3 linked regions of the Homo sapiens genome follow. The protein of the gene in region 2 purifies or fractionates together with the protein of the main gene of each other region. This does not show direct contact. Each region holds a gene or a part of one and is shown on either strand. Other genes may lie near its edges.

What was found. Proteins that work in one complex are often made in the same cells at the same time.
Region 1: the proteins of ART3 (region 2) and ATP12A purify together in Homo sapiens (affinity purification with mass spectrometry; 3 studies listed by BioGRID and IntAct, with this or other methods). This does not show direct contact.
Region 3: the proteins of ART3 (region 2) and ZNG1C purify together in Homo sapiens (affinity purification with mass spectrometry; 3 studies listed by BioGRID and IntAct, with this or other methods). This does not show direct contact.

What each region holds. Positions count from the first base shown.
Region 1 is NC_000013.11:24,704,380-24,711,407, forward strand, and holds part of ATP12A (potassium-transporting ATPase alpha chain 2), read left to right. Parts: intron 1-1,933; coding exon 1,934-2,084; intron 2,085-2,643; coding exon 2,644-2,812; intron 2,813-2,899; coding exon 2,900-3,054; intron 3,055-4,984; coding exon 4,985-5,108; intron 5,109-5,303; coding exon 5,304-5,449; intron 5,450-6,080; coding exon 6,081-6,214; intron 6,215-6,412; coding exon 6,413-6,514; intron 6,515-6,938; coding exon 6,939-7,028. UniProt on the Homo sapiens protein: The catalytic subunit of a H(+)/K(+) ATPase and/or Na(+)/K(+) ATPase pump which transports K(+) ions in exchange for Na(+) and/or H(+) ions across the apical membrane of epithelial cells.
Region 2 is NC_000004.12:76,070,787-76,077,712, reverse strand, and holds the start of ART3 (ecto-ADP-ribosyltransferase 3 isoform a precursor), read right to left. Parts: upstream 3,005-6,926; 5' UTR 2,894-3,004; intron 1,833-2,893; 5' UTR 1,824-1,832; coding exon 1,755-1,823; intron 1-1,754.
Region 3 is NC_000009.12:68,265,955-68,272,982, forward strand, and holds part of ZNG1C (zinc-regulated GTPase metalloprotein activator 1C), read left to right. Parts: intron 1-265; coding exon 266-352; intron 353-2,979; coding exon 2,980-3,024; intron 3,025-7,028.

The DNA.
Region 1 (7,028 bases), on a different chromosome or scaffold from region 2:
CTTCCTTCCCTACTTAGGAAGATTTGTTTGGCCTTCCATTCAAGGATCTTTTGTGGTCTTTGTCTAGTTTTAGCCTGGTGATGGCCATGTGCTGGTGACGTGCACACGACGGTCCTGCCCTTAGCCTCCTCCTGTGCTCCTGTTCAGTATAGGTGGCACATTTCTTCCTATAAACCTGGACTGCTTTGCCAATTTGCTGGCCCGTATAGTGTCTTTGTGCAACCTCAACTTCCTCATCCTTTCAGATGGGCATGGATGGAACTGTGCTTGTAGCAGACTCCAGAATGTGCTTCTGTCTCAGCTCTTTGGAACGAGAGAAAGACATAATCTTCCTACGAATGTGGGAAGGTGCATTGAAATGACTTTTATGATTCTTGCCTCAGTCAAAAGTCACAAAGGGACTGCACTTCCTCTTGGTCACTGCCACTCTGCTCATGGCCACAAAAGGGAAGAGTGGATTACACATTTGTATACAAATCACCACACTGAGTGAAGTGGATGCTTTTGTGAATGTTTTCAGTTATTCACTTCATCAGCTCTAGTTTCATGACCATATAAAAATTGCATCTTAGCAGGTGTAAGGGGAAAGGAAACACCCCTTCTTTCTTCTCTTACTTTCTTTTGTTTTGTTTTGTTTTGTTTTTTTGCCAGCGGTTAAGGAGACCTGTAGTTTGAGTCAAGTGCTAGAATTCCAGTATTTAGCACCAAGAGGTAAAACAGACCTAGAAAGCTCAAAACTTGCAAATTGTAAAGAAAAAGACCTGCAGCAGTTTGTACCTACATTGTTTAAGCTGAGATTTGAAGGCTGAAATGTAGTGTTAGCCACGAGAAGCTGAGGTGAGAGATGCCCATTCCTGGTCAGGGAGCGAGACCCGTGAAGGCCTTAGGGTACAGGGGATGGAGGATGTCAGAACTGAGAGCATCCAGCGGGCAGGAGGGAGAGCCCAAGGTGAGGCGAAGCTTGACAACGCAGGCCCCACCTGGGCTCGCTGGCTAAAGTTAGGGATTCCGGGGTCTGCTCCAAGCACGGTGGAAAGCCCCTGAAGAGTTTTAGCAGGGGACTGGCTCAGGCAGCTCTGCATAATCAATAGGCCCTAGAACCTTACTTTTATAGTCAGCAGGCAATAGCGCTGCTCAAAGACTTCAGTAAACTTCTGCCTACGTAGCACATTGCACAAAGATGACACTCTGTAAATCTGAAATACCCAACGGCAAGTAATTATTACCCCTTGTTTGGCCATAAAAGAATTCTAGGACCCAAAACATATGAACAGGCAGTTTGGGGGTTTTATTTTTATTTTTGTTTTTGAGACAGGGTCTCACTTTGTCACCCAGGCTTGAGTGTAGTGGCATGATCATGGCTCACTGCAGCCTCAACCCCCCAGGCTCAAGCAATCCTCCTGCCTCAGCCTGCTGAGTAGCTGGGACCACAGGCACATGCCACCATACCTGGCTAATTTTTTAAAATTTTTTGTAGAGACAGGGGCTCTCACTATGTTGCCCAGGCTGGTCTTGAACTCTTGGCCTCAAGTGATCCTCCTACTCAGCCTCCCACAGTGCTGGGATTACAGGCATGAGCCACTGCGTTTGGCCATGAATGGGCAGTTTTTTAACTTCCTTTTACTTCTGAAGTAAAGCGTTGCTCTAGGAAGTACCACTCTCACCTGTTCTAGTAGGGATAAGGCTACCTGGTTTTTTATTCCTATTGTTATATGGTACCAAGAAATGGTGTTATATTTTAGCCTCAGTTTGCCCTCTTGAAATGGAGACTAAAGTGTTCCCAGGACTCCTGTTACCTCACTAGAGCATTAGGTATCAAGGACACTGGGTTCCAGGTCAAGTCAGAGAGGCTTCAGCCAGCATCCTGCCTGGAACAGTGTTTCAACCTAAGATCTGCCCTTGGGCCTCACCCAGTTTCTTCTGGCCCTTCTAGGGATGCCAAGGCCGCTGTGGTGACTGGCATGGAGCTGAAGGACATGAGCTCAGAACAGCTGGATGAGATCTTAGCCAACTACCAGGAGATTGTCTTTGCCCGGACATCCCCCCAGCAGAAGCTGATCATTGTGGAGGGCTGTCAGAGGCAGGTGGGTGGACAGCAGTGTCCAGAGGACTGACAGGCCCATCACTGTCCATGGGCAAGTGCAGAGGTCTGGATCTCACATCAGGCTGTGGTGCCTTTGAAACTTCAAGAGAGAGTTCTTGGCTCATCCCCATCACCTGACCTCTCCAACCTCTCAGGTGGGCTGGCCCCTGTCCTCCTTTGAGACCCCCACCACATGTTCCCCGAAAGGCTCACCCCAGCTCTCTGCATTTTGTCATGAGAGCCCGGTGAAGCATTTGCCACTGTGGTAGTTGTGAGTAAAGAGAGATTTAAAATGCAAAGATTTAAAACAAAAAATGTGAAGACATAAGATACAAGACACCTGCGCATTAGGTTTTCCTCATTTGCACGTATCTTGTTTGGAGACCCTTGTTCCTGCTTCTAAGATTTCTCATCTTTATCTTTTCCCCTAAATGGGCCTTTCCGTTCAGCTATAATCATCCTCGCAACCTCAAGAGAAAGGGAAGTCTTGTTGCTCTTGCCAGGCCTGCAACCCACTGGGCCTGCTCACTCCCACTTTCTCCCTGGGTCCCCCGCCATAGGATGCTGTTGTTGCTGTGACCGGGGATGGAGTTAATGACTCTCCGGCTCTAAAGAAGGCAGACATTGGGATTGCCATGGGGATAGCAGGTTCTGATGCAGCCAAAAATGCAGCCGACATGGTCTTGCTGGACGACAACTTCGCATCCATCGTCACAGGGGTGGAGGAAGGTGAGTGAGTCTCAGGGGGTCTTCCCAAGGGCCAGGGTGGTCTGGGGGACTAGAAGTAAGTTCTGAAGGAGAAACCTCTCTGCCTAGGTCGCCTGATCTTTGACAACCTCAAGAAGACTATTGCTTATTCCCTGACCAAGAACATTGCCGAGCTGTGCCCCTTTCTGATCTACATCATTGTCGGGCTCCCCCTGCCCATTGGCACCATCACCATTCTGTTCATTGACTTGGGGACAGACATTGTAAGTGACACTGAAGGGAACAGGCTGTGATGCCTGCCCCAGGGGAGGTCAAGTTCAGGGTCGCTACCTTCAAGGGCCGGGGATGGACTAACTCAAGGCTTCTCAGCTTCCATGTGATGGGGCCTGTAGCTCTGCATTTCTCACAGGTTCTCAGGTGGTGCCCATTCTACCAGTCCACATGCCACACCTCAAAGCAAGGGACCAGAGGCATCTGCCAAATGTTTGGAAATTAAAAACACTCTATAGTGAGCTTTTTTTTCTTGAGACAGAGTTTCACTCCCATCACCTAGGCTAGAGTGCAGTGGTGCTATCTTGCCTCACTGCAACCTCCGCCTCCCAGGCTCAAGTGATTCTTCCACCTCAGCCTCCCAAGTAGTTGGGACTACAGGCTTGTGCCACCACACCTGGCTAATTTTTGTATTTTTAGTAGAGATGGGGTTTCCTGGCCTCAAGTGATCCACCTGCCTCGGCCTCCCAAAGTGCTGGGATTACAGGCATGAGTCACTGCACCTGAGCTATAGCAAGCTTTTCAAGACATGAGTCTTCATCCTCAAAAAAAAAAAAGAAATGCCATTGGTCAGTTTCAGCCTATGGGCTTCCCTTTTCTTTTGGGAAGATGAAGCTGTCACTCAGATTAATCACCCAAATAACCACTGGGGGCCCAGTGACTAAAGTGATAATCTCACAGCCACCTCTTGTTAAGTAAGAGAGTCTGACATGGAAGACCTTTACCTAAACACAGTAAGAAGTAGCAGTTATGAAGACTTTATAAAGCCTTGCCCTACAGTAATGTCACCTAAACCTTCCCCTTTTCCAGTATCCATTTAAAGAAAGCCCCGTCTAAGCTGCCCATGTGGCTGTGGCTTACGTGGGCAAGCAGGGAAAGCAACAGACAGCAAGCTGAATTCTTAGCAGGAAACTGGCCCTTCGAAGTGCCCCCTTCCCCTTCAAATTGCCCCCTTCCCCTCTCTTGTTTTCTACAACACCCAGGTAATCCCTAATTCCTAGAGAGACTGGAGATGTCTTTCCCTTTGAGGGGTATTGAGGTCCCCAAAGTTGATGGATCATTTTCCAAGCCCTTCACATTTGCCTGCTTTGCTCTGCTGCAGTGCTTCTCCAGGCCTGGTGCGGGCATCACCTGGGAACTTGTTAGACATGCACACTCTGGGCACTGGTGGACACCTGTAGCCTAGCTACTCAGGAGGCCAATGCAGGAGGATTACTTCAGCTCAGGAGTTTGAGTCCAGCCTGGTCAACACAGAGAGACCTAGTCTCTTAAAAAATAAAAATTAAGAACAAATAAAATAAAAATCTTATTCCAGATAACTGGGCTAGGAATGGAAATAGGTTGTACACCCATTGTCTTTTAAAAAAGAGAAAGAAAGAAAGAGAAAGAGAGAAAGAAAGAGAGAAAGAGAGAGAGGGAAAGAGAGAAAGAGAAAGAGAGAGAAAGAGAAAGAAAGAAAGGAAAGAAAGAAAGAAAGAAAGAAAGAAAGAAAGAAAGAAAGAAAGAAAGAAAGAAAGAAAGAAGGAAAGAGAAAGAGAAATGAATGCAAATTCTCTGGCCCCAGCCCAGTCCTCCTGAATTGGGAAGTCTGGAGGTGGGGCGCAATGATCTGTCTCTTAGCAGGTCCTCCCACCTGGAGGGAGAGGACGGCACAAGAAATTCTCCCTGTAGGGGAAGAGTGTTTTATAACCAGCATCCTTCAGAACTGCCAGCACAGGGTGATAAAAAGCAGCTGATTTCTAAAGGCACTATTCTTAAATTTCCATACAGACAACACGCCCTCTACTGCCTATAGCCTGGATGGGCCAGCTCCATGCCCCCCACCCCATCCAGCCAGTGCCCCACCCACCCCAGCCCCCCTCCCCTACTGTGGGTAGAGCAGAACATCCTGGGGTTAGACCTCACCAGCCTCTTCCCCTCTAGATCCCCTCCATTGCCTTGGCGTACGAGAAAGCTGAAAGTGACATCATGAACAGGAAGCCTCGCCACAAGAATAAGGACAGGCTGGTGAACCAGCCGCTCGCTGTGTACTCATACCTGCACATTGGTACGATGAGGGCGCGTCTTCCCCATCACACGAGGGCCTGCCCCGAGAATTCACTGGAGTGGGGGGCACAGCCAGAAAGTGTGGTTTTCCTGTGGGGCCTGGGTTGGGGAGGGAGGGGGAACCGAGAGTAGACAGGATGAGGCAGTTTCCTGAGGCCATCATAGAACCTGTGTCCTATCTCTCTTGTTCTTTCAGGCCTCATGCAAGCCCTGGGAGCTTTCCTTGTGTATTTCACCGTCTATGCACAAGAGGGCTTTCTGCCCCGCACTCTCATTAACCTGCGGGTAGAATGGGAGAAGGACTACGTGAATGACTTGAAAGACAGCTATGGGCAGGAATGGGTGAGTGGCGGGAGCCCTGCTGCAGAGTCCACCTGATTCTCTCCATGCTCATTGCCCTGCGCAGAATTACATAGAACCTCCATGTCCCTGAACAGCCTGGGAAAGCTTCAATTAATAGGGCTCAGGGCCCCCTTGCTGACACGTGTTTGGCCTTTGCCAGGTCTCATGGCACAGCCTCCTGTCTTGGGCTAGATGACAAGAGGTCCCTTTTTTTACCTTAGCTTTGCCATTGGTATAGAAGAGTGACCAGCCCAGCCACACCCACAGTGCGGCCAAATAAATTTACATCTTTCAGGCCGGGTGCAGTGGCTAATGCCTATAATCCCAGCACTTTGGGAGGCTGAGGAGGGAGAATCACTTGAGCCCAGGAGTTTGAGACCAGCCTGGCCAACACAGTGAGACCCTGCCTGTGTTAGAAATAATAGTAATGATAATTTTTTAAAAAATTAACATTTTTCTCTACTCAGCTGGTTCAAGAAAGAAAAATGTTTCTTTCCAAACACTAGAAGGTGGTCCATTCTCAGTCCGGGTGAGGTGTGGAAAGAACATGAAGCTTTAGAGAACTGCATTGGAATTTCCTAGAAGTTTTCCTTTAGGCCTCAAGGTCTCTTCCTTCTCTGCCCATTAACAGACAAGGTACCAGAGGGAATACCTAGAATGGACGGGCTACACGGCTTTCTTTGTTGGCATCCTAGTCCAGCAAATAGCAGATCTGATCATCAGGAAAACCCGGAGGAATTCCATCTTCCAGCAGGGTCTCTTCAGGTACTGCCTGTGCCCGGCCTCCTGGGGCAGCCCTGGGCCTGCCGTGCAAGGATGATGATGATTTGTTTTTCACAAGACAGAGTTCTGGCCACACTTGTAACCCCAGAGGCATTGATTTTTCTGGTGGCATGGTCTGCTGGGTGTATGATCATGAAGCCACAAGAATCCCAAGTCTGTCTGCTTTTGTGTGTCTTGCAGAAATAAAGTCATCTGGGTGGGGATCACCTCACAGATCATCATTGGTCTGATCCTCTCCTATGGCCTCGGAAGTGTCACAGCCTTGAGTTTCACCATGCTTAGGTGAGTTCACCCTCAACAGCATGGAGGAAAGAGCCAGCCTCTGCTTTGAGCTGTCGCAGCCTAAATAAACCTGAGGATTCCCAGGGTTCTTCCCCAAGTCTTTCAAAAGACGTCAAACTGATCCCATGCTCTGTGAGCCCAAAGCTTTGATCTGCATTTTCCAGAAGTGGAAATGGGTTTTCTAGACCTCACCAACCGGCCTTCATCCTCATCCAACAGGTTGCTTCAAAGGCAGACATTGCTTCTAGCAGTCACAGTGCAGGTTAAACAAGGAGCTTTCCACCTTTATTTTGTGGGACCTCGTGGATTTGTCGTTCTTTGCAGTAAAGCAAGACAAATGAACGAGAAGCCCCATTCCCATTGGGCAGGGTTGGGCTATCCCTGTGGATGAGTCAGGGTTCACTTTCCATCCCTTTGCTTCCAGGGCTCAGTACTGGTTTGTGGCTGTGCCGCACGCCATCCTGATCTGGGTGTATGATGAGGTGCGGAAGCTCTTCATCAGGCTCTACCCTGG
Region 2 (6,926 bases):
ACACCCAAGAGAAGTGAAACATGTTCACAACAATAGGTAATTTTGCTATGAATCATAAATCATAACCCCCAAATTCATTCTTACATATATATTTCCTATATATAAGTAAACTTTACTCTGTAATGCTACCAAATAACCAAATAGTGTTTGTAGTATCTCAATATGTCAAGACTATATGATTAGAAAATTTTTTAAAAAGAAAAATAAAACACATGTTCACATAAAAACTTGTACATAAATGTTCACAACACCACTATTCGTAATAGCCATAAAGTGGAAACAGCCCAAATGTCCATCAGCTGATAAATGGATAAACAAGATGCGGTACGGCCATAAAATAGAATATTACTCGGCTATAAGAAAGAATGAAGTACTGATAGGACTCCTGAGAACATTATGCTAAGTGAAAGAAGCCAGACACAAAAGGTCACATATTGTATGATTCCATTTAGGCGAAATATCCAGAATAGGCAAAACCATAGACACAGAAAGTAGACAGTGGTTGCCAGGGAATGGGGGATGGAGAAAATTGGGGCTGACTGCTAATAAGTACAGGGTTTCTTTTTGGGTTGACGGAAATGTTTTGCAATCAGATAGTGGTGATGGTTGCAGAACATAATGAATATACTGAAACCACTGAAGTATACAGCTAAAAATGGTGAATTTTTATGGTATGTAAATTATATTTCAATAAAAAACATACTGCGACACAGGAAACAGGATACACAATGATTCTATAGAAAATGGATTAGAATATTAAATTCAAAAAAGGATAACAGTTTAAGAATTTAAGATATTTTTAAAAAGGCATCTAAAATGGTGCACAAATACCCACAAGTAATGTGGCAGCTAACAACGTGGGGAAAAAAAATCAAGTGAAATATTATATTTTACATAAAAATATGTTACAGGATGCTTAAAGAGTCAATTGCAAATAAAATCATAAAAGTTCTGCCAGAAAAAAAATGTGGGAAAATGGTCATTAATTAAAAAACATGTAATCAAACAATGCAGCATTATCTTATTTGGAGAAAAACATATATTCAGAATATCTGATGACATGCGTGACATGCAGCATAGTATTAACTTAAAATGCAAAGAAAAAATTCTATGTACAGTGTGAACCCATTTTTGTAAATTAAAAACAGTATACACATAGAAAAAAGCCAAGAAGCCTGTATACACCAACAGGTTGGGAATCATTCCCTCTGAGTGGAGGAATTATGAATAATCTTTACTTTCCTCTTTTTGCTTAATTTTAATTTTTTCAACTTTTTACAGTTAATCTGTCACATATTTAAAATGAAAAGAGCTACTTATAATTAATTTACCTATCCTACCTACTTTCATTTCCACCATCAAGCCACACAGATGCCTCAGGTAATGTTATATCAAGAATTTCCATTCCAGGCCAAGCGCGGTGGCTCACGCCTGTAATCCCAGCACTTTGGGAGGTCGAGGTGGGCGGATCATGAGGTCAGGAGATCGAGACCATCCTGGCTAACATGGTGAAAACCCGTCTCTACCAAAAATACAAAAAATTAGCCAGGCGTGGTGGCAGGCGCCTGTAGTCCTAGCTACTGGGGAGGCTGAGGCAGGAAAATGGCATGAACCTGGGAGGCGGAGCTTGCAGTGAGCCGAAATCGAGCCACTGCACTCCAGCAGTCTGGGCGACAGAGAGAGACTCCGTCTCAAAAAAAAAAAAAAACGAATTTCCATTCCAATGACCACATGCTTCCCATTCCCAACATTACCTGGAAAATGTCCACTAGAATCATGGTTGCCAGCAGCATGGTGACTATTTCAAAATGTCCCGTCTTCATTTTTCTCTTCTAAATTAAAATAAAGAAATTTCAATTCAGTAGACTCAAAAAAGAGGTGTAGGGAAGTAGAATAGGATGACACTGCGTATTTTTTCATTTAGAATGTGAGTGGATAGCATGATGGTCAGGAAGTGATTATCAATAAATTCCTAACGGGCTACAAGAGCCATTAGGCTTTATCTAGTGGTCTAATGCTCTCATTCTACAGACGAGGAAACAAAAACACCTTAGAATTTCAGTGATTTGCTCAAGATTAAATCTGTGCATTTCCATACTCCTCCAGACATGTCATCTCTCCCACCACAGTCACTGGGAGTCATATTTTCTTCCCATCTCTAAATCTCCCCTCAGCGTGCACAGGAAATAACACAATCAGACTAAAAAACAGCAGTCTCAAATTGGTCCCCTAGCTCCCAGTTTCTAAGAATTCCCCAGGAATATGTCCATGCACATTATCCATTCTTCTATCCTCTTTGCACATTGTCATGCCCTTTTGAGTGGGACAGAGGAGATGATGAGGTCAGTAGTGGTACAAAGCAGTGGATTGTCAGAGATGGCCCCCTTCCCCCAAATACAATCAAGAGAAGCCCGAGGGTAAAATAAGTGTCTTACATAACTTTCTGAAGGCGGGAACAAGAATAAGAAGGAACTGGGTAGGCAGCAATTCTAAGATTATACAACTATTGGCCGAATGCCTAATATTCATCCCAGTATTTATGATAATGTAACTCAAATGAAGCTTCTATTTTACCCTACCAATCACCATATTCTGGATTCTAAAAATGAGAATGAACAGCACAGGGGAAGGGAGAAGTCTTCCCTTTTATAGATCATTTTGGCCTCAGTTTCCCATATTTCTTCAGAAGCAGTTTTGTTTTGTTTTTACTAAAAATACTAAAATATAGTACCAACATGCTACTTTGTGTTAAACTTCTCTTTCCAAAAAAGATTTGAATATAAGATGATAGATATCTGTCACAAGGCAATATGTTTTAAGCAAGCTTTGATCAGGATTTTCCTAAAAATTGTTCATTTCTTTAGTCTGAGTGTAAATAAGTCAAAAGGTTTACCTGGCTTTTGTGCCTTTGGAGGAAGTTTAAGTGATGCTAGGCCTCAAACTGACTCCCCACTCTCAGTTGTGGTAAGCAAGTCTTCAGGATGGGATGTTGTTGACAGTGAGAGCTGAGACAGGAATGCTTTTCTTTTTATAAACACCCCCAGCAGTAGCTTGGCAGTGGCACACTACGCTACTTGTGTTCTGCTATTTATATCTGGCCCCCCCACACTATGCCTTGGAATCACTGCTGTTAACACTTTAAATCTCCAAGAGGCTTGTAAAGCCATAGCAATTCCCTTTAGCCACACAGCACATTCAGTTCTGAGCCCACAGTTCTGGGCTTCTCTCAGAGAGAAATGACTTCCCATTCCTAATCCTTTGACACTGAGATATCAAACTAAAGCATGGATTTTACTCTAGGCTAAGTGATTCACATAACTAGGGAAACTTGCTCTGTTAATCACTGGCAATGGTGACAGCTATCACCATTCGCTCAACTAGCTTACTATATTTCAGGTACCTCGTCAGGAGTCGGGATACATAAGCAAGTAAAACAAAGTACTAAAAAGCACTCAAAATCTAATAAAAAACATGAATACGCATACTTAACCAAAATACAACATGTTAAGAATCCCAAGTATAGACAAAGTCCAGTGATAACATTAAGGAGGGAAGGATTTGGTAATGCCTGCAACTACAGCTGTCATTTGAGTAACGCATACATGGTAAATATACTGACTGCAATGCTGAGGAACACTTAGGGTTCACTGACTGTGGATTTAAAAAACACAAAAATGTCCAAAGAAATTCACGCATACATACACCAAAATACATTAATAGAATGTTGATAGTAGCACTATTCATAATAACCCCCAAACTGGAAACCAAATATCCATCAACAGTAGAATGGTTAGACTGTAAGTGAAATTTTATATAGCAATGAAAACGAACAAACTCTGACCATATATAACAATGTGGATAAATCTCACAAACAAAATTTTGAGTAAAAAAAGAGATACAAGCATGTTTATACTGTATGATTTAATTTATATCAAGAACAAAATTAGGCAAAACACTTCCAAGGCATGAGAAGTCAGAATAGTGGTCACCCTGGGTAGTAGCTAGTAACTGGAAAGGGCACAGAGGAGCATCTGAGATGTTAGCTGGGTTCTGCTTTTTGCTATGGATGCCAATTACATTGACAAATTCAGTTTGTGAAAATTCAGTGAGCTATATACTTATGATATGTGTTTTTTTTGTACACACATATATTACTTCAAGAAAACATTTTAAATTATCATGAAATACACCTATATTTACAAAATCCAACTCTACTCTTTAGAATAGAGATATGTTCCAACCTTTTCCCACCTCACTGGCTTGGCAATCCAAGATTAAATACACAGCACAGACTCACTCCCAGAAATAATATGATTTTTTAAAAAGCAGGAGTTTGGTTAGAAAGAAAAAAGAAAGTTTGCATGTCTTCAGGCCTTAGGCTCACAACAACCTGCTTTTAAGTTCCAAGCATGTAGGCCTACAGGAAATGAGGTAGAGAAGTTCTCCTGTCGCTGGCCTCCATTCCTGTTTTGTTCCAGTTTTTAACCAAATTTCTTTCATTCATTCATTGAACAAATATTTGAGTCCTTAAAATGTGCTAGGAACTGTTTTAGGTACTAGAGATATACCAGTGAACGAAATGGATAAATATCTTGCCTTTGTGAAGTTTATATTCTTGTGAGGGAAGGCAGTCAAATAACTAAAATAAGTACGTAAATTATGCAAGTATGTTAGAATGTAGTGAGTGCTATGGTTTTGGCTTTTGTTTATAAGTAGCACAAAGGAGACTAGGAGCGCATGGAGTGTTTGCAATTTAAATTGGATTGTTAGGGAAGACTCACTGAAAGGTGGTATTTGAGCAAAGACTTGAAAGAGATCAGCCATGAAGACTGTGGCAGTCAAACACAGTGAACAGCACGTACTAAAGCCCTGAGACAAGAATATGCCTACTTTTGTTTGAGGAATAGTAAGCAGGCCAATATGGTTGGAACATTAGAGTAGTACAAGATAAGGTCAGAGATGTAAGGGGGTGGTGGGAAGACCATGTCAATCTCTGCAGGCCACTGTAAGAACACTGGCTTTCACTCTAAGAGAAAAGGAGCAAATCACAGGTTTTAAAAAGAGGTATAACATGATCTGATTTATTTTTTAAGAGGATCACTCTGGCTGTTATGCTGAGAATGGTCTGTAGGGTGAATGTAAGAAGACTAAATGACAGGTTATTATAATAATGCAAGCAGAGATTATGGTGGCTTGAATCAGGAAGGCAGCATTAAACGTAATGAGAAGTAGATGTGTGTGTATGTGTGTTGTTGCTGTTGCTGAGGTGGTATGAAGTGGATGTCTGAGTGTATGTTTATGTTGTTGCTTTGTTGTTTCTTTGGTTGTTAGAAACAGGCCATTTTTATTTGAGCCTGTTAAAAATCCGACTTTTGTAGATTAGACACAGTATTTCCTGATACGATAAGGAAAAGCATTTGTGGGTTCTAAAAGTCTACTGTATTTTCAAAAATGTAATAACTCACAAAAAAGTAAATGGAAATGATCTATAAAGATATCAATTTATTATACAGTTAAAGTGTTTGTAATCTCAGAGATTTGGAAGCCAGGGCAGGAGGATGGCTTGAAGCCAGGAGTCCTAGCCTGGGCAACACAGGGAGACCTTGTCTCTACAAAAAAATTTTAAAAATTAGCCAGGTGCAGTGGCACATGTCGGTAGTCCTAGCTACTTGGGAGGCTAAGACAGGAAGATCTCTTGAGCCCAGGAGTTGCAGATTACAGTGAGCTATGATGGTGCCACTGCACCCCAGCCTGGTCAACAGAGTAAGACCCTGTCTCAAAAACAAAAACAAAAACAAAAAAAAATGTTTAGACTTAAATGCAGGATATAATTTGAAGATTGAGGCAATAGGATGTACTGACAAACTAGATGTGGGCTGCAAGAAAAAGAGGGGAGTAAAGAATAGTTCCAAGATTTTTAGCTTGAATAGCTGGAAGGATGGAGTTGTCATTGATTGACATGGAGAAGACCGTGTGTGGAAAAAGTATCCTGGAACTCAAGTGAAGAAAATACTTACAAAAGAAAGGAAAGATCAAATGTGTTAAAAGCTTCTGATAGGTCAAGTAAGATGAGGACTGAGAACTGACCATTGGATTTAGCAATGTGGAGGATATTGAAAGTTTTGTTTAAGAGCAGGTCTGATAGAAGAGTGGAGATGAAAGCCTGGTTAGAATGGCCTAAGAAAGAATGAAAAGAGGAATTGGAGACATTGGAGATGGTTAATATCTTCAACTCTTTCAAGGAGTTTTTCTATAAAGGACATAAAAGGAATGAGGCAGTATAGCTTGATGGTGGGACCAGGGAAAAGGTAAAGAAGAGAGTCCAAGAATTTTTTTTTTTTTTTTGAGATGGAGTCTCGCTCTGTCACACAGGCTGGAGTGCAGTGGCACGATCTCAGCTCACTGCAGCCTCCGCCTCCCTATCTCGGCTCACTGCAGCCTCTGCCTCCCCAGTTCAAGCGATTCTCCTGCCTCAGATTCCAGAGTAGCTGCCCACTACCAAGCCTGGCTAATTTTTGTATTTTTACTAGAGACGGGGTTTCACCATGTTGGCCAGGCTGGTCTTGAATTCTTGGCCTCAAATGATCCGCCTGCCTTGGCCTTCCAAAGTGCTGAGATTATAGGCATGAGCCACTGTGCTTGGTCAGAAATATTTTTAAAGACAGAAAAAAACCAGCATGTTGGATATGATCTAGTAGATAGAGGAAAAAACTAATAATATAGCAAAGAGAGGGTAGAATGATTGGGTCAATCTTCTTGAGTAGGCAAAAGGGGATGAGACATAGCATACAAGCAGATGAGGTGGCCTTAGATAAGAGCAGGAGAGGTTCATCTAATATGAACAGGAGGAAAGGCACAGTATATTGGCAGATGCTGGAAAGAAGTGGGTTGCAATAAAAATTCTTTTCTACTTGCTTCAATTTTCT
Region 3 (7,028 bases), on a different chromosome or scaffold from region 2:
CTTAGTAAATACTTTGCAAATGGGTAATGTGAAATCTGAACTTGCATAGTAATGAATACAATTCATTCACATTGAAAAATTAGCGGATTAGGAGTAAACTGAATCACTCCTATAGAGCACTATATAATCCTTAACTGATATATTGATCTACATGAGGTGTTTTTATTTATTTTTAATTTGTTAACATTTCTCTTTTGATGTATTAATCTGCATGCGTGTATATTATTTAAAATTTCTTAACATTTCTTTTTGTTTGCTATTTTAGGCAAGTTGCTTTGGCAGATATCATTCTCATTAATAAAACAGACTTGGTTCCAGAAGAAGATGTAAAGAAATTAAGAACGACAATTAGGTACAAAATGATAAGTGTGTTAAGTGCCTACAGATCCATATTGTATACACAGAATATTTTTTACTCTGATTGTTGCCCTGTAGAAACTTAAGGTATAAGGTTGACCTGCTTCAAGAACGTTAGGGAATCACATATATTGTTGATGGCTAATTGTTATATAAATGGTAATACATAAAATTAGTCCCCAGTGCTTGCAGAATATAGTTCACAGTTAATAGACTGATATTCAGGGTCTTCGCACTCCATCTTTCTTTTCCTGTCTTCTCTTTGACTCTTTCCTAATGTCAGTCTTCCCTAACTTTACCCAGGATGGTTAATTCACTTTCCCATGGATGCATCCTGTCAGTTCCTGTCTTTACTCATAATGTATTCTCACTCTGCCAATCCCTGAGTTCTTTCTTGTTCTGTTTTTTTTTTTTTAATTTATTCTATAGAGCCTATTCTGTCTCTCCCCGCTTCCTATGTGAAGTCTTCCCTGACTCAAGTGGTCTCAGTTTTCCCTGAACTCTTGTTGACTTCATCTTCCTTAACTGTCAACCATGCATTGTCTTCCAGCTTGCTTGTATATCTTCTTTGTCCATAGCCAAGGCTGATCAGCATAGGACAATCAGGACAATATGAATGATGCTCAAATATGTGCTAACAGTCATTTTGCTGACTGTTCTGGAGACTCCCATTCCTTTTGAAAACAAAGATGGACTTTTCAAATGAAGTTATAGTTCAGGGACTTTGTTTTGAATTATTTTGTAAGACCTGAACTAATAAAAGCCCTATACAGAGAGACATTCGGTAGCTATTATTATTGGTTATCTTTAATGTGTACAATGCTTTGAGCGTGATGGCTCAAAATTACTATTCTTAGTATTTATAAGTTCTACTGACTAGATTTTCAATCTGTCATCTCAGTTCATATAGTATATATTATAAATTGAATCAATAAAGGTAAGGCTCATTAGGAGATTATTTGCCATGATTAATGATTGTGGAAGAAAGAAATTCATATTTTTTCCACATATTTCATCTTATTTTAATAGTAATGTCCTTAAACTTTACTATAAAAAAATATAATGTCTCCATGTGGAGGGTAGGTATTGTTGCCTAGTGTTGAAGATCACAGACCTTGGAATCTGCTTGGGTTCTAATCCTTGGTCTGTTTCTCATTGTCTTCTTAGGGAGCTTATTTACCCTTTTAAAGCCTCCTCTGTAAAAGGCATAATGCCTATCATAAGTTTGCTTTGAGTATTACATGAGACAATGTTGGTAAACTTTGCACAGTGCTGACACATAGTAAGTGCTCTGTTAGCTATTATTATGTAATTTTTTTCTTAGCTTACATAGTAAGTTCAAGGTATAGTAAAAAAGGGAAGAAAGAAAAAGATGGCTGATTTTGAAAAGGAGAAAGTGATGAATGAAGATTGCTTTTACATTTTTTGACACTGGTCTTCTAATCTTGTTTCTCTTCATAAATCTTGTGCACCATTGTGATTGCTAAGAAGAACACAATCTATTTAGCAAACGTTTTTGGCATAAAAGGAATGATAATTATTACTTGACTTTTATATCCTTATAGAGACCTAAGCTAAATCTCTGACACTGACAATATTGACTATTAGCCAGCTTGTTAACAGTACTAGAAATGAATTTGGTAGAAGCAATTTGGTAAATTACACACCCTTTTGGCTTTTACCCTCCGTTTATATCAGACTTGTGACTGACTCAGAATGATATTTGGGGAGGTGAAAAAAGGTAAACATGTTTGAGAGGAATTAGCCATCAGACTAGAGTGTATTCAAAAAAGAAGATTTAAGAATTTTGTAAAATAGTGGAGAGACTTGCCTCAGAATCATTATATGTGGGAAGCCTTACCCATGAGAACAAACTTGAACAAGTAGCAAGAATCTTGGGTAAGTAACCCTAAAGACAATTGAATTCATGATAGAGAATTGATGATTGATGATAGGCAATGGAAAAGATAAATAGATGAGGTGTACAGTGTGTTGAAAAGAATTTAACAGGTACTTTTTGGTTCCATACAAAGCCATATTCTATAGTATCAAAAGAGGGAGAACAGGCATAACGGGTAGAGAGCCTAATTAGGGAACTGACGAGGTTATTCTATAAAGGAACCTGGGATGTGTGACTTAGAATTACTGTGAATACTAAGGACAGGCTGGGGGCAAAGCAACTTACAACTAGGTTTTTATTTTTAGTGTGTATATAGCCATTTCTACCATGTATGCCTGAGGAAAAAAGTGACCACCGTAAAAATTTTGAGTATCTACTCATTTTTAAGAACACTGGGATAACTGACTATTTATGAATGATTTTTTCTAAAGTGAAGCGTCTTTTTATTAACCACAAAGTAGCCCTTAATCTGACAGTTGTGTGAATTTTTGCATATATGTTTTATTGATGTATGAGTGGAATATATGTGATTTATTGTTTGAAGGAAAATCATAATTATTTTTTAAAGCAAGTTTTGTTTTTCTGTTTTTAATTTTTTTCTGGTTCCAGATGTATTTGGGTATGCTTATTTCCCGTTTTAGAAACAATATACTTTGTATACTTTTTTAAAAAGTTAATTTTTACTTTTAAACTTTGTCTTCCTCATTTATTATTTATTTCAGATCCATAAATGGACTAGGACAAATCTTAGAAACACAAAGATCAAGGTACTTTAAAAAAGCTATTCCTATTAATAACAAATCATTTTAGTTATTAATAATAAACATTAAGTAATTGACAAATATGCTTGATTCTGATATAAGAAAGATCTAAGTGCATTTAAAAAGATTTGGATCCAAAATGTTGTTTGGAATGCTCTTAATAAGTTAGTTTGGCATATTTGACTAGTACATTTGCCTGTCTTCAAAACTAAGATTACAAAGCCATGATAACACTGTGTAAGTGTTTGCTTAATGAGGAAGAAAAGACTTCCAAACACTCGAGAGGGTAACTCAGTACAGAAATCTGAAGTATATTGAGGAATCTTAATTTGAAGTGTTTAAATGGCTTTTTAATATTTAAAAAGCCTTCTTAGTGTTTTATAGTTGCCAAAAAATACATGGAGTCTTTACCTTGAAGTTCCTGACAAATTCTTTTATTAAATTTTGACTTTCATTTTCTCTAGGTTCTGTTCCTAAAACATCTGTGAAGTGTATTTCTGTAGATTAAATTCTGTTTTCCATTGAATGTTATCTTAATTTCAGAAAATTTCTGTGCAGGGTTATTTTATTAAGCTCATTTTTTTTTTTTTTTTTTTTTTTTTTTTTTTTTTTTTTTTGGTGAGAAAGGCTCAGCAGCTGATAGACTCAGCAACAGGCAGCCAGGAGCTCTGAGGCTCACAGCTGGCAGTCTAGTTCCACTCAGTCTCTACTTGAGAAATTCTTTCTTTGGAAGTACAGCAGAGGCCTTAGGTGAGTGGCTTGTCTGCTATGGCAGAGATTAGAGGTGCTGACAGACTGCCATAAGTATTAGGCAGTAACAGCAGCAGCTGCTTATATGCATGTGAACAGCTGGGGAATTAATTTGGTATGCATTCTCAGGAGCCACTCATCTGCTGGCAGAGGTAGCAGAAGAATGCCCTTAGTGTAAGTCCTCTACAACCATACACCAAATGTGCTCCCTGCGTTTCAAATTCCATTGTAGAGAGTCTCTGATAATCTCACTTATACCATGAGCCATTCCTCAGTATCTGTCCTCTTCCTGTTAGTGTTCTACAATTCCTTTCTCCTTAATTTTTCTCCGCTTTACAAAATGTCACACAGACAAGTGCATGATACTTAAACAAGCTTTTAAAAATAATGCTCATAAATAGCTTTGGTTCTGTCATAATATTCGTATTTATAAACATTTTAAGTCAATTCTCTTCTTTTATTTTCATTTCAGAAATATCCATGTCCTGAATAAAAGTTGTGTCTTGATTAGTTTATTATGTAACAATTTAGTGTGTTTGACATTTCTAACTTTTATTTCTAACATTTGCTTTATTATAGAACAATAAACATGCAGTGATTGATTTTTCTTACTTCAAGTGGATGAGTGAGCAAGTGACTAAAATCTTCTGTGAATTCTTCAGTGTATGGTGCTTGCCAATGCATCTGAGAATCTAGGGACTTTCTGAAATAGTACTTCCTTGCTATGAGGACTGAAGTTGGATTAGAATCCTTTTCAATGAAGATCAGATGTCCTGAGTAGAATTCTTACTATTGGGTCCTGAATCTTATATTAAATATTCTCTCAAATTCCTTGAGGCATAGCAACTTGAGCTTACCAGTTTAGAAACTGGAGATTTGGGCTGGGCACGGTGGCTCACGCCTGTAATCCCAGCACTTTGGGAGGCCAAGGTGGGCGGATCACGAGGTCAGGAGATGGAGACCATCCTGGCTAACACTGTGAAACCCCATCTCTACTAAAAATACAAAAAATTAGCTGAGGCTGGTGGTGGGCGCCTGTAGTCCCAGCTACTCAGGAGACTGAGGCAGGAGAATGGCGTGAACCCGGGAGGCGGAGCTTGCAGTGAGCTGAGATCGCACCACTGCACTCCAGCCTGGGTGACAGAGCGAGACTCTGTCTCAAAAAAAAAAAAACAAACAAACAAAAAACCCGGAGATATGGTTAACAAAATAGTCAAAGTCACTCTTATAGAAGTTTTGTTTTATTTTTTGTTTTTTAAAATTTTTTTACCATTTTGTAGCTGACAAGTACTGACAATAAACTGCTATAAGCATGTGTAGAAAAAGGCTCACCTTGAGTAGTTAAGAGTAAGGAAAAGGAATAGTGTGTAGCATCGTCTTAGTGGTAAGACTTAAGTTGATTTAGTAGCAAATGGAAGTACTAGTGAACCACATAGATTTCAGAAGTAGGAGTAACAGGTTAGAAGATGTGTCATTTTAATCTTCTCTAGACTTTTTCTTAATTTTTAGAAATGTAAGTGGACTGAACAGAGGAAAACCAAAACACAGCTGGTCAATAATAAGTTAAATTAATTTGACAAACTGCCTGCTATGCATTTCATAGCATTTTAAGGACTATATAAGCAATGGATAAGGCAAAAACTCTGCCTTTAAGGAGATCAGTCATTGGGGGGAAACAGAAGCAAACAAACAAAAAGGCAACATAATAGATATTAATATTAATACAAGAATTTTAAAAGCACAGAGTTCTATAATAATAGGAAAATAGAGGGAATGATTGCTCAACTTTTCTTGAAAAAGAGTCAGGAAAATATTGACCGAGAAGGCAGTCATTGACCTGAGTCTTAAAGAATGAATAAGGTTTTTACAGATGGAGTAGGGTAGGGATAACTTTCCAGGTATAAGGAAGATTTTGTATTCCAGGGACCTTTGAATATTTTAGAATGGCTAGAAAACTTGGTATTATGTAGCACAGAAAAAGTGGTATGACTGAAGAGATAGAGAACTTACCACAAAGGGTCTTGAATGCCATGATACATAGTTTGGATTTTCTTCTGTAGGGAGCAAGGAGTTAGTGAAGGATTTTAAAAGCAACATGACTCTTGGGAGGTAGATTCAATGTGAGACTAATCTCCGAGGTATAGGAAATACAGGAAGGAGGAGCAACAGGTCGGGTAGTGGTGGAAGCAGGTTTGGAAAATGTGATTGGTTTTGTAAACGTTTTTGAGTTTGAAGTGCCACTGGGGAAGGCTTTTGGAAATTTATTTCCAGAGTTCAAGACTGAGCTATCATTGCAGTTTGCTCAGCTATTTACTGAGCTATCTACTGTCAATTTGGATAGTATCTACAGTTTGCATTGTAGATACTGGATACTTGGATTGGCTGGTGCACCCTGTTTATGAGACTCACTGGAGTTTGAAGAGCTGACCACTGGAAAATATCCCTAAGCAGTAGCTGCAATTCCACCCCCACCGAGGAGAGCCAAAACCCTCTTCGTTTTCACTCTCCTGTCCTTGGTCTTAAGCTACTTAAAGCAGCCTTTAGACATAGGGAAAAATTGAAAGCCTCTCTTTTAAGAAAAACATTAGGTACTTCTGGAATAGAGAGTTCAAGAAATTAGGAGAAAAATGAACTTTTGAAGCTTTTTCTTTCCCTTTTTTGTTTACTTCATTCTCTTACTCAGTTTTAAAATGCTGGTAATGGTCTTTTTTTTCTTTTTTTTTTTTTTCTTGGCGATTTTAATGCTTTGGAAAAGATCTCATGGTTTTATCTCCAAAGGAGGAAATTAATTTGATGCCATGGAAATTAGTTTTCTAGTCGTATGCCTTGAATGAGTGAAGAATTTCTTTTTCATGGTGGTACTAAATTTGGGGAAAGCTATAGAAACTTTCATCTGGAAGCTTACACTTTTCCTCTTTTTTGAAAATTTGGTGAGAGACTTGGATATTTTATTATTTTCTGTAAAAGAGTGTAATTTGTTATACAGGTCTAATATTGATCCTTTTTTGGAAGTATGGAAAGAATCTGAGTATAAAGCAGAATTACCTCTGGATGGCATGTATTCTCAAGGACACTGTCACAGTGAAACAGTTTATTTAGAAGCTTGTGTTTCCAAACTGTTGAATTTGATATTCACAAAATTGGCATGTGTAAACTTTATTAAACTTTAAGCTATTTCCTAAGATGAAGATGACAAACTTGGAGGGAAACTTCATTCATTTGGTTTATTTTTATTTTTATTTTTATTTATTTTTATCTTT